Linked DNA regions of Homo sapiens: regions 2 and 3 are each reported to be linked to region 1. Evidence: microRNA targets listed by miRTarBase, many of them from high-throughput screens and not tested one by one. Region 1 holds a microRNA gene; each other region holds the end of a gene's coding sequence.

Region 1 (4,064 bases):
AGGCGTCTGTGCCTCCCCACTGGTACCTTCTTGTTTTATTGTGCCCTTGGCCCCTGACACTGGCGACACCCCCTGGTTCTGCTCACTGTGGTGCTGTGTCCCACAGGTGACTTTCCAGCAGATCTGTAAGGATGTGCATCTGGTGAAGCACCAGGGCCAGCAGCTTTTTATTGAGTCTCGGGCCCGGCCTCAGTCCCGGCCCCGCCTCCCTGGTGAGTTGATGATGATGTGTGGGTGAAGAGACAGACCTGGGGGGTCCCCTGACCTTCACCCCCAACCCATTTGCTGTTTTTTTCCATGTGAGCTTGAGAAGGCTATTTTCCTCTTTCTCTCTTTGCCCCAGCTACAGGCACGTTCAAGGCCAAGGCCCTTCCCTGCCAATCCCCAGACCCAGAGCTGGAGGCGGGTTCTGCTCCCGTCCAGGCCCCACTAGCCTTGGTCCCTGAGGAGGCCGAGAGGAAAGAAGCCTCCAGCTGCTCCTACCAGCAGATCAACTGCCTGGACAGCATCCTCAGGTAAGGCCTGCCAGGCATCTTCTCCACCTCGGGCTCTAACCCTGCCCACCCCAAGCCCTGCTCTGATGCCCTGTGCTGTGTCCATCCCCAGGTACCTGGAGAGCTGCAACCTCCCCAGCACCACTAAGCGTAAATGTGCCTCCTCCTCCTCCTATACCACCTCCTCAGCCTCTGACGACGACAGGCAGAGGACAGGTCCAGTCTCTGTGGGGACCAAGAAAGGTAAAGATCCAATGCACCCTGCTCCCACTGCCCCGTCCTGGCCTGGTGGCCCTGTGTCTTTTCCCTTCTGCTTCTGGGCCCTCTTGCTCTGCCCTGCTCTCCTCCCCAGCCTCCTGGTCTCCAGACTGTTCCCTCTGTTCCCTACCACCATCCCCTTCCCCTTTTCCCTGGGATCCTCTCTCCTGACTTCCCAGTGGGGGTGGGGATGGTAACTGGCACCATCTCTCTGCACAGATCCGCCGTCAGCAGCGCTGTCTGGGGAGGGGGCCACCCCACGGAAGGAGCCAGTGGTGGGAGGCACCCTGAGCCCGCTCGCCCTGGCCAATAAGGCGGAGAGTGTGGTGTCCGTCACCAGTCAGTGTAGCTTCAGCTCCACCATCGTCCATGTGGGAGACAAGAAGCCCCCGGAGTCGGGTATGGGTGTGGAATTGGGGGGCAGTGCTTGGGCTCCACCGGTCTCCCAGCTAGAGCTCCCTCCTGCCTTTCCCCTCCCCTCTAGGGCCTGATGGAGAGAAGGAGGCCTCCCTTGACCTGGGGCTTGGGGCTACTGCTTCTTGCTCTCCCCTCCCTGCCAGGCTTCTCGGCTTTGCCCTTCCCCTGTTCTGCTTCTCGTATTGTTACTGTCAGTTGAAACACAGAGTCTGGGATAGAGGGTTTGCCCTGAGGTGCTGACCACACAGGGTCTGAAGGCAAGGAAAATTGAACATCCCTGAAGGGTCTTTGGATATTGACCTTGAAAATCATGAGGGGCTGGGCATGGTGGCTCAGGCCTGTAATCCCAGCATTTTGGGAGGCTGAGGTAGGAGGATCACCTGAGATCAGGAGCTCGAGATCAGCCTGGGCAACATGGTGAAACCCTGTATCTACTAAAAATGCAAAAATTAGCCGGGCGTGGTGGCGCGCGCCTGTAGTCCCAGCTACTCGGGAGGCTGGGACAGGAGAATCGCTTGAACCCAGGGGGTGGTGGTTGCAGTGAGCTGAGATCGCACCACTGCACTCCAGCTTGGGAGAAAGAGTGAGACTCCATGTCAAAAAAAAAAAAAAAAAGAAACAAGAAAATGTGTGAGGGAAGGCCAAGGGGTGGGCTTCTCTTCCAATGAGAGTTGTGACGGGGTCATCCCAGTAGAGTTCCTGGCAGGGAGTGGCCACTGGAGGGGCCTGAGTATCGTCTCTTCTTCTGGGCCAGCTTTGCATGGAGAGGAGGACCCAGGGCCAGCCGTTGGCAGAGAGGTGACCAAGAAACGTACATGGAGACCAGGCTTGGCTGTGGGGCAGAGCTGCCAGGGGTTGGCTAGGCTATCAGACAGGGAGGGTGTGGTATGGATGTGTTGACCCCTGAAGTGGTTCTGATGACCTTTCCCTATCTCACTCTCCTCAGACATCATCATGATGGAGGACCTGCCTGGCCTAGCCCCAGGCCCAGCCCCCAGCCCAGCCCCCAGCCCCACAGTAGCCCCTGACCCAGCCCCAGACGCCTACCGTCCAGTGGGGCTGACCAAGGCCGTGCTGTCCCTGCACACACAGAAGGAAGAGCAAGCCTTCCTCAGCCGCTTCCGAGACCTGGGCAGGCTGCGTGGACTCGACAGCTCTTCCACAGCTCCCTCAGCCCTTGGCGAGCGAGGTAGCCACCTGGGGCCTCCTGGAGCCTGCCCTCTGCCCAGTCTAGGACTGGATTGTTGGGGGGTGGGTCTTAAGGGAGGTGTTTCTGCTCCAGGGACCCAGGCTGGTGTTGCTTCCACCACTAGGCCCTGCCTAGGGACAGGCCCCTCGCTAGCTTCTCCCCACTAGGATGGGGTTCCGGGCTGCAGCCAGAGGAGGGCAGCCTGGGGGGATGGCACTGGGATGGGCAGGCAGAGGTGCTGTCTCCAGGTAAGCGACTTCAGGCCTAGCCTGGGGGCAGGGGCAGGAAGTATGCCCACTTAGGAGTCAGTTGTCACTGATGAAGAGACATGCATAGATTCTGGGCCAACTCTGGGTGGGGTCTGGGCTTCAAGGGCAGGTGGAAGGCAGCCCCTCCAGGTGCCTGAGGGAGATCCCCTGCAGGCAGACGCAGGACTCAGGACTGGGCTTTCCAGCCCCACTCTTCACTCCATTGCAAGCTAGGCAGAATACGGCCTCGATGGGCAGGAGGAATGCCTAGGCTGGCAGTGCCCACAGGAGTTTGGCGGACCAGAGCCATCTGTCCATGTGTCCATGGACTCACCCTGCTTCCTCCATCTGCCAGCATGCCTCCATCTTCCGCACACCCCCAGCTCGACCCCTCGTGTAACCTCTCCCTGGCCTTGTTCCTTTCTCAATAAATCCCCTTGTCCCTGGCTCCTGTGATTCTTCCCTGAAGGTGCCCCACCTCCTGAGTCCCCCGTTCTGTGTGGGTTGAGAAGCTCTCTCTGGGACCTTGGCCTGTCCTCTCCCTGGTCAGCGTGTCAGGGCAGTGTGGGTAGCAGGGGTACTAACCCCAGGTTGAGGTCCTTGCTAACCCTAGTCTCTCCCCACAGGCTGCCACCACGGCCCCGCACCCCCAAGCCGCCGACACCACTGCCGATCCAAAGCCAAGCGCTCACGCCACCACCAGAACCCTCGGGCTGAAGCGCCCTGCTATGTCTCACACCCCTCACCCGTGCCACCCTCCACCCCCTGGCCCACCCCACCAGCCACTACCCCCTTCCCAGCGGTTGTCCAGCCCTACCCTCTCCCAGTGTTCTCTCCTCGAGGAGGCCCCCAGCCTCTTCCCCCTGCTCCCACATCTGTGCCCCCAGCTGCTTTCCCCGCCCCTTTGGTGACCCCAATGGTGGCCTTGGTGCTCCCTAACTATCTGTTCCCAACCCCATCCAGCTATCCTTATGGGGCACTCCAGACCCCTGCTGAAGGGCCTCCCACTCCTGCCTCGCACTCCCCTTCTCCATCCTTGCCCGCCCTCGCCCCGAGTCCTCCTCACCGCCCGGACTCTCCACTGTTCAACTCGAGATGCAGCTCTCCACTCCAGCTCAATCTGCTGCAGCTGGAGGAGCTCCCCCGTGCTGAGGGGGCTGCTGTTGCAGGAGGCCCTGGGAGCAGTGCCGGGCCCCCACCTCCCAGTGCGGAGGCTGCTGAGCCAGAGGCCAGACTGGTGAGCACTGACCCCTGCGTCTGCCTGCCAGCCCCCACCCCAGCCCCGCCCCTCTGCCACCCTGTGCTGCCTGCTGTCTCTGCCAGGCTGGCGTCTCAGCCTCCAGGAGGTGGAGGGAGTCCCCAGCTGAATTTCTGAATGAGGCAGAAATTGGCTACCTCCTCTTTGAAGGGACAGTCCTGTCTGTCTGACAGGTGGTGAGGACATCTCAATAACTTCTG
Region 2 (4,057 bases), not on the chromosome of region 1:
CCTCGCCACGCCCCCGCTAAAAGCGCCTTCCCGGGCTTCGTTCCCCCTTCTGGGAACACCCCTTTTATTATCGCCTTTCCTATCTCACTCTTGGTGTTAAGTGCCTTCCACTGGCCACGTCCCCGTTACCGGGCGTCTTCCCTGGCCATGCCCACGTTGCCAAGCCAATTACTCGGCCACGCTTTCAGTATCTGAGGCGTCCTGGCTGCTCACCACTCCATTGGCCTGCCTGCGCGCCAATTCCCTTCGGTGGGCCCCGGTTGGCTGCAGGCTGAGGTCTATTCCACTGACCACCCCTCTCGGTGCCGCCCACAGTGATCCTGGTGCACGCCTCGTTGCGCCTGCGCAACCTTAAGAACAAGATTGAGAACAAGATCGAGAGCATTGGTCTCAAGCGGACGCCAATGGGCCTGCTACTAGAGGCACTGGGACAAGAGCAGGAGGCTGGATCCTAGGCCCCTGGGATCTGTACCCAGGACCTGGAGAATACCACCCCACCCCCAGCCCATAATTGGGACCCAGAGCCCTTTCCCAGCACTTAAAACAGGAGCCTAGAGCCCCCTGCCCAAACAAAACAGGACATCTGTGACCGCCCTACCCCCACGCCAGCCCCAAACTAAGATATCCCTCACACCCAGCCCCCATTACCTAGGGACAAGAGTCTTCCCCAGCCTTGAACCCAGGACCAAGAGCCACCTACATCCAGCCCCAAAACTGGCTTCAGGCCAGAGCATCCATGGCCAATTTCAAATTGTGAACCCAGAGACACTCCCATCCACCCTTCTCCATGCTCATCCCCAAACTGGGGCCTGGGGCAAGGCACTCTCAAATCTTGAACCCTGGACCAAAGCTTTTCCAGACCCCACCCTACCTTCCAACCCAGGTCAAGACATTGCCAAATCTTGAACTCAGAACCCAAGTGTTCCATGCCCCTGTGTGGATGGAGTCGGGTATCCTGACTGTTGGACCCCTGGTCCAGGTGATCCCGACCCTCACCAGTCCCATTTGCCTCCCTCCAGCTCTGCTTAGGCATTTTGCCCCTCACCCCAATGTTCCACACCATCGACAACCAAGGGGTGAGGTGGGGACAGGCCTCAGCAGGGAATGGGGCGTATATGTTAGTGTTGCTGCAACAATAAAGCCTGTTGCATCTCTCATGCCAATTTGAGCCTCCTGGGTAAAGTCCTTGTACATTTCAAAGGACAGAAGTGGCCTACTTTTCAATTCTGCTAGACTCTTCCTGAATATGTGGGCTGAAGAGGTGATCTCTGAGGCCCTTCCTTGAACTTATGACCTCTGGATCAGCATTAAAGCACAGGGAAGGACAGGTGCAGTGGCTCACGCCTGTAATTCCAACACTTTGGGAGGCTGAGACTAGAGGATCACTTGAGGCTAGGAGTTTGAGACCAACCTGGGCAATATAGCAAGACTCTTATTGCTACAAAAAAATTAAAATTTAGCTGGGCATGGTGGTGTGCTTCTGTAGTCCCAGCTACTTGGGAGGCTGTGGCAGGATGGCCAGAGCCTAAGAGGTAGAGGCTGCAGTGAGCTGTGATTGTGCCACTGCACTCCAACCTGGGCAACAGTGAGAACCTGTCTCAAAAAGCTGGGCATGGTAGCTCACGCCTGCAATCCCAGCACTTTGGGAGGCTGAGGCAGGAGGACTGCTCAAGCCTAGGAGTCCGAGACTAACCTGGGCAACATAATGAGACCCCCATCTCTACTTTTTTTTTTTTTTTTGAGACAGTCTTGCTCTGTCGCCCTGGCTGGAGTGCAGTGGCATGATCTCGGCTCACTGCAATCTCTGCCTCCCGGGTTCAAGCGATTCTCCTGCCTCAACCTCCCGAGTAGCTGGGATTACAGGCACGTGCCACTACGCCCGGCTAATTTTTTTTGTATTTTTAGTAGAGACGGGGCTTTACTGTTAGCCAGGATGGTCTTGATCTCCTGACCTCGTGAGCTGCCCACCTTGGCCTCCCAAAGTGCTAGGATTACAGGCGTGAGCCACTGCGTACCCGGCCTACAATTTTTTTTTCTTTTTTAATTAGCGGGTATGGTGGTGCACAACTGTAGTTTCAGCTATTCAGGCGGCTGAGGTGGGAAGATTGTGAGTCCAGGAGGTCAAGGCTGCAGTGAGCCGTTATCGCGCCACTACATTTCAGCCTGGGCAACAGAGTGAGACATTGTCTCAAAAAAATAAAAATTTTTAAAAAATGTATAGGGAGGTTAAGGACAGAGTCTTTGTTATCACCATTTATATTACCAAGAGTTATTGTTTGAGGTTGGCTAGAAATTTGAGTGCAGACAGGCAAAGAAGTTGCCCCACATCACAAAGCAAGTAAAGTCAAAACAGATGACACTATCACAGGCTATTCCCAAGGTATGTTTTTTCCTGCAAAAATATATTATCTGGTCTTGACTAGAGGTGTGGGTCCTCAAGGTGAGGCAGACAGAGCAGCAACACATGGGTTCAGTTTACACATTTATTATACAAATCCCCTTCCAGTGTGGGTAATGTCTTGGGTCCAGATCCACTGGTATAAAAAGAAAAGCTTAACGCCAGGAAAAGGGGGTAGGGGAACCCCCAGCTCCGAAAATCACAGACAGGTATCATAGAAAACACAACTTGTGTGGGTTTGCTTAAAAAGTGGTGGATTGGGGCTGGGTGCAGTGGCTCACGGCTGTAATCCCAGCACTTTGGGAGGCCAAGGCGGGCAGATCACGAGGTCAAGAGTTCAAGACCAGCCTGGCCAATATGGTGAAACCTTGTCTCTACTAAGAATACAAAAATTAGCCGGGCATGGTGGCGTGTGCCTGTAATCCCAGCTACTCGGGAGGGTGAGGCAGGAGAACCCAGGAGGCAGAGGTTGCAGTGAGCTGAGATTGCGCCGCTGCACTCCAGCCTGGTGACAGAGCAAGACTCCGTCTCGAGAAAAAAAAAAGGGTGGAAGGAAAGCCAAGGAAGGTGTGAGTGGTGAGTGGCCCGTGGCCCGTAGGCAGACCTCACCTGAGGATTTCACTGGCATCTACCGGGTGCCCCTCCTGTGGGGCCTCCTGACTGGGGGTGGTCAGGGCAGAGGCCATGGGCACAGAGGGGGTTGGGCTCTTTCAGGCATCCCACCCAGACTGCAGTCCTTCCAAGTGTGGGCAGAGAGCCCACTGCCCCAACTGCCCTGGCGATGCGTGGCAGGGATTTCTGTTCACACCGGAGTCTCCTGGCTGCCCTAAATGGCCCTGAGACCCGATATGGTCCATTTTATGGAGGGGGTTCCTGAATGGAACCTGGTTGGGCATGGGAACAGGAATGAACCCAACCAGATGAGATCACAGTTTCCCTTTTGTAAAACGCCTAGTGTTGGAGGAAGACAGTGAATACCTAAGTCACAACTGTAAACATAAATGGAGGAAGGGGCTTGGGGTCCCCATGACATCATCCCCCCTCTTTTAAGCTAGCTGAGGGCCCCCAGTCCCCAGCACAGTGTGAGAGAAGAAGCAGGGTGTCAGACACCTTCCTGGGCCTACGGGGAGCCAGGGGCCTTGGAAGATTAGGTTGGCGCACTCTGCTCAGGACTGAGAGCAACCACACCCCAGGGCCCAGCGAGGTCAGCTGTGTGCTCCCCAGATTGGAATCGTGCCCAGGCCAACAAGGGACATATCAGAAGGGGTCAGACCAGTGTCCCCGGGGTCTGGGTGTCAGAACTGGAGGACTGCTCCCCCTCTAGCGTCAGGTCACTTAAACGAGCGCTCAGCTCCGGGGGATACAGGAAGTCCGCGTAGTATCTTTAGAAGGGGTAGCAGGAATCCGGAGGACAGGGCGGGGAAGACAAGAAGAAGAAAAGACAGACAAGACACAGAAAAAGAAAGGAAAAGAGGCTCGTTAAAGAGGTGGAGGCAGGCACAGGACAGCACTTTCAGGCTCTGGGGCATGGAGAAAAAAGGAAGAAAACAGCAAGGGGCATGAGATGTCCCTTCCTCCCGGCACCCTGGCTTCAAGGCTCATCTTCAGCCTATAACTTGATAAAGAATTGCTGCTACCAGTGCCCAAGATCCCCTCCAC
Region 3 (4,057 bases), not on the chromosome of region 1:
CCTGGGCTGGTGTGGGTGGGAAGGAACCGAGTCAGCCTGGGTCACTGCTGCCCTCCTGTCCCCGCAGGTCCACAGGATGCTCAGGAGTATGGGAACTACCAGCCAGGGTCCCTGTGTGGCTACTGCTCCTTCTGCAATGTATGTCCCCAGCCCAGATCCACCCACCAAGGTGTCCCCAGAATCTGTCCCAGGGGCCCTGGGGTGGTGCTGTGGGAGGGCTCAGAGCAAGGGCAGGCCAGGGTCAGTTCTGAAAGAAAAGAGATCCTTCTGCAGGCATGTGAGGTGAGGACAGACTGAAGGCTGGGAGGCTGGGGCAGTGGTCCAGGAAGGAGAGGACAAGACCCAAGCTGCATCTTGGGGTGTGGGGACAGAGACAGGGGTCTGTGGCAAAGAGAGTCGGGGGAAGGAGGGATGGCACAGGGGCTGATAGGCTAGGGGGAGAATAGGCAGAGAGCGGGTGGAGAGAGCACCTGAGCCCACCCTGACAGGGAGACATGGGGTCGCCCTGAGATAGAAAACCAGGGGCAGGGCCGGGTGTGGTGGCTCACGCCTGTAATCTCAGCACTTTAAGAGGCCAGGGTGGGCGGAACACGAGGTCAGGAGATCGAGACCATCCTGGCTAACACGGTGAAACCCCATTTCTACTAAAAAATACAAAAAAATTAGCCGGGCGTGGTGGCACGCACCTGTAATCCCAGCTACTCAGGAGGCCGAGGCAGGAGAATCGCTTGAACCCGGGAGACGGAGGTTGCAGTGAGCTGAGGTTGCGCCACTGCACTCCAGCCTGGGCGACAGAGAGAGACTCCGCCTCAAGAAAAAAAAGGAAAAAAAGGGAAAGGAAGGAAACCAGGGGCAGGGGAGGGGAGGGGAGGCTGGTTTGGGGGGCAGATACAGAGCTCAGTGTTAGAGATAAAGAGGGTAGAGTCTGGGGAAGCGTCCAGGGTGCAGGGGTGGGCCAGGGGCGGGTACCTCCCAAGTGGCGTTAGAGTTTCCATCTAACCAGGCTCCCCCGGTCCCCAGCGATGCACTGAATGTGAGAGCTGTCACTGTGATGAGGAGAACATGGGTGAGCACTGCGACCAGTGCCAGGTGAGACCTCACCTCACACTCAAGGCTCCACTGGGCCTCAGGATGCACCGGGACCCTCTGAGGACCCCCAGCCCTAAATCCTGGCCTCTGACCCAACCCCTTACCCCTGATGCAACCTTGACTCCACAAGCGATCCTGACTCCAACCTTAACCTAGACCTAGCCTCTGGTCCGGGTCTGGTCCCGGCCCCATCCTAACTCCGCCCCCGGCCACGCCCCACGCTCACTCTCTCTCCCCGTCCCCGCCTCCAGCACTGTCAGTTCTGCTATCTCTGCCCGCTGGTCTGCGAAACGGTCTGCGCTCCAGGTGAGCATGGGCGGGGCCCTGGAAAAACCTGAGGAAGGTGCCGGGCCCAGCGTGGTGAATCCTGGTGGGGGCGGAGCCTGGCCCGGTAGGCTGGTGGGGCGGGGCTAAGAGGGGAGGCGTGGCCAAGGCTCTGAGCACGTGGGCCGGGGCCTGGCTCGAGGAACACCAGGTGGAGTTGCTGGAGCCAAGGGACAGAAATGAGTGGAGGGTTGAGATGCGGGCTTAGAGCCTAATGGGCGAGGCCAACTCAAGTAGGAATCGAAGGGGCGGGGCTACTGGAGAACGGAATCACCCAGAACGAAAAAGGGGTCCGGTAGAAGGGATTCAGTTGGAAGAAGGAATTAGGGAAAAGGAGGTGGAGCTAGCACTAATCTCGCACGCTATACTGAGTGGCTGCCTAATTTTGCTCGTGCAGTACCCCTCAAGCCTCTTTTCTCTGCTGTCCCACAGGAAGCTACGTTGACTATTTCTCCTCGTCCCTTTATCAGTAAGTGTGTAAAAGGGGAGCGTGTAAAAGCCCCGTTTAGAGAAGTGCTTGTCTCGCTATGAGTTATCAGATGACTCTGGGACTCCATTTCCCCGTCCATGAAATGGGCAGGTTAATGATCTCTAAGCGTCCTGGGGTGGGCTTTGAACACCAGCTGTCTAACTTCTGGCGTTCTCGTCTCCAGGGCCCTGGCAGACATGCTGGAAACGCCGGAACCCTGACCCAGTCGCTCGACTGCGACGCAGGTGTACCTCCCCCTGCCTTCCAACCCCTTTCCACGAGCTATATTTATTTCTCCGAATAAACGTGCTCCCCGAAACCTCATTGTCAGACGTGGGGTCTGGGAATCTCAGGGCATCGGGGAATGCGGGTAGGGTCTAGAGACCTGGACCTAGACTTGAGGGATGAGGGGCCTGGACTCCTGGCTCGAGGTGGTTGGTTGAACAGCCCCCCCCCCCCCCGCAAAAAAAAAATCAGTCAACAAGGAAGCTTTTTGAAACAGTTCTCTTTACCCGTGATCACTGAGTGACGCCTGGGGCGGGGAGGCCGACCGAGAGTCGGGGGCGAGGGCTCCCCCACCGTCCCCCTGCCCCCACGCCACGTCGCCCAGCGGCATCGTGGAAAGAGGATTCTCCCATGCAAACCCCGGAGCCAGAGGAGAAGGGGAAGCGCCATTCTGCGCCCCCTACCCCCGGGGCACGGACACGGCCACAGCACGGGGGGCGGTGAGGCCCCGGGGACACGAGACACGGGGGAGGGAGAGGGGAACCCGCCCGCAGATGACCCGGGGGACCGGCGACCGGACGCGGCGGGGCGGAGCTGAGTGGCACAGGGGGCGAGGCTTGTAGCAGCGAGTCCCCCCTCCCCTCCTTTCGGACGAAGAAGGAAGACTTGGGCCCCGCGACTGGGCAGGAAAAAGGGGAGGGAGCAGCCTCTCCCCGCATGCGGCCCGGGAGGGAAGCCCCGCCCCCTTCCCGCGGGTAAAGGACACCCGTCTCCCAACAGAAACTGATCAATAAATTACAAAGTAGAGAAAAGGAAAGCGGACGTTTGGGGCGGGATTTCTTCCTCCCCGCTTCTTCCCCCTCTCAGTCCAGTTCATGTGGTTTGGTCCAGGCCCCGGCCCTGTGCGAGGCGGGCGCGCGCACTCCCGCTGGTCTGTACAGATGGTCCAGTCCTCGGCGCGAGCTCCCCCGCCCGCTCTCCCCGGCGAGGCCACAGTCCGGGCAGGAGAGGGAACAGCCCAGCCTCGGGAAGATTCTTCCGTCCGAGTGAGGTCACCTGCATGACGCCGGGCAGCGCGTGGAGCAGTGAAGATCCACCGTGCCGCCCCGCACCCCCAAGGTCGCCCAGCACGGTCCTCACCTGGAGGCCTGCACTAGCAGGAATAGGTCCGGACCGAAACGCCGTCTGCCCGGGAACTCCCAGAAGTCTGGCCTGGAGGGAGAGCGAGCAGCGGTTCAGCCTGGAGCACCCTCCTCCCTGTTCCTCTCCAGGATTCCTCCCTTTGGACTTCCCTTCCCGATGTCACAACGATCGCCGGGCTCCACATGGGTTTCCCTCCCTTCCCCGCAGCCAAGGACTCAAACTCGCATTGGGCGAGTTCACTCCCGCCCTGGGAAGGGGGAGTGGGATTTATCCATTTCATCCTGACGGGGGAGTCCGGAACGTTGGAGCAGTCCATTCCTCAGGGGTGGGCGAGAAAGGACTAGGCCATTCCAGAACCCGGACTACTGAGGTGGTCCATGCCCCACCCTAGGGAAGCGAGGAAGGGCTGTCGCATTTGGGAGCCCCCCACCTTCTGGCTGCAGCTTGCGGAGAGGGAGCCCCGGAGAGCCCAGGGCTCCCGCTGCAGCCGAACGAAAGTTGGGGGGCAACATCTCAGCTGAGTCGGGAGTTACGCCTCGGAGGTCCTTCTCCCGGAACATCTTCCGCCAGGATGGGGAGCGGCTGAAAGACTTGGCGCTGTCCTAGGTATAGGAGCCGGACAGCCGGTGAGGGACTCCTGCCTTGTCTGACTCCGCCCCTTCCTTTGACTCCACCCCTCTCCGGGTCTCACCTCTCCTTTAACCCCGCCCCTCTCCTGGCCCCGCCTCCAACCGTGACCATTAATAGTCAGGCCCCGCCCCCTCAGCTCAGCCTCTCGAGGAGCCGCTGGGAGCAGAGCCCTCTGAG

Evidence for each region. The annotated mature microRNA hsa-miR-6883-5p reads AGGGAGGGUGUGGUAUGGAUGU and lies in region 1 at 2,043-2,064, shown strand. An mRNA with a match to its seed (bases 2 to 7 or 8) in the 3' UTR can be bound and repressed. Matches are read on the target gene's strand: a 7mer-m8 pairs with bases 2 to 8, a 7mer-A1 pairs with bases 2 to 7 and ends in A, and an 8mer does both.
Region 2: the mRNA of CCDC120 is a reported target of hsa-miR-6883-5p. Seed matches in the 3' UTR shown: 7mer-m8 at 2,833-2,839 and 7mer-A1 at 2,699-2,705.
Region 3: miRTarBase lists PPFIA3 as a target of hsa-miR-6883-5p. Seed matches in the 3' UTR shown: 7mer-m8 at 2,834-2,840, 7mer-m8 at 2,802-2,808 and 7mer-m8 at 2,635-2,641.

The regions. Positions count from the first base shown.
Region 1 is chr17:8,143,045-8,147,108 of GRCh38, reverse strand. MIR6883 (microRNA 6883) reads left to right here and starts at 2,038; the gene lies at 2,038-2,115. It overlaps PER1 (period circadian regulator 1), which reads left to right. Exons shown (of 23, transcript NM_002616.3): 14 at 107-212; 15 at 344-515; 16 at 607-737; 17 at 972-1,151; 18 at 2,116-2,358; 19 at 3,233-3,843.
Region 2 is chrX:49,068,267-49,072,323 of GRCh38, reverse strand. It overlaps CCDC120 (coiled-coil domain containing 120), which reads right to left. Exons shown (of 11, transcript NM_001163321.4): 11 at 2,470-3,780. The coding sequence ends at 3,666. It overlaps PRAF2 (PRA1 domain family member 2), which reads left to right. Exons shown (of 3, transcript NM_007213.3): 3 at 316-1,163. The coding sequence ends at 455. Among named protein-coding and RNA genes, the nearest start is that of PRAF2, 3.7 kb to the left of the region's middle.
Region 3 is chr19:49,149,342-49,153,398 of GRCh38, reverse strand. PPFIA3 (PPFI scaffold protein A3) reads right to left here. Exons shown (of 30, transcript NM_003660.4): 28 at 3,681-3,852; 29 at 3,248-3,319; 30 at 2,373-3,163. The coding sequence ends at 3,261. It overlaps HRC (histidine rich calcium binding protein), which reads left to right. Exons shown (of 6, transcript NM_002152.3): 2 at 68-138; 3 at 1,021-1,089; 4 at 1,341-1,395; 5 at 1,846-1,882; 6 at 2,067-2,201. The coding sequence ends at 2,103. Among named protein-coding and RNA genes, the nearest start is that of HRC, 4.0 kb to the left of the region's middle. RefSeq lists enhancers at 1,458-2,067, 3,657-3,876.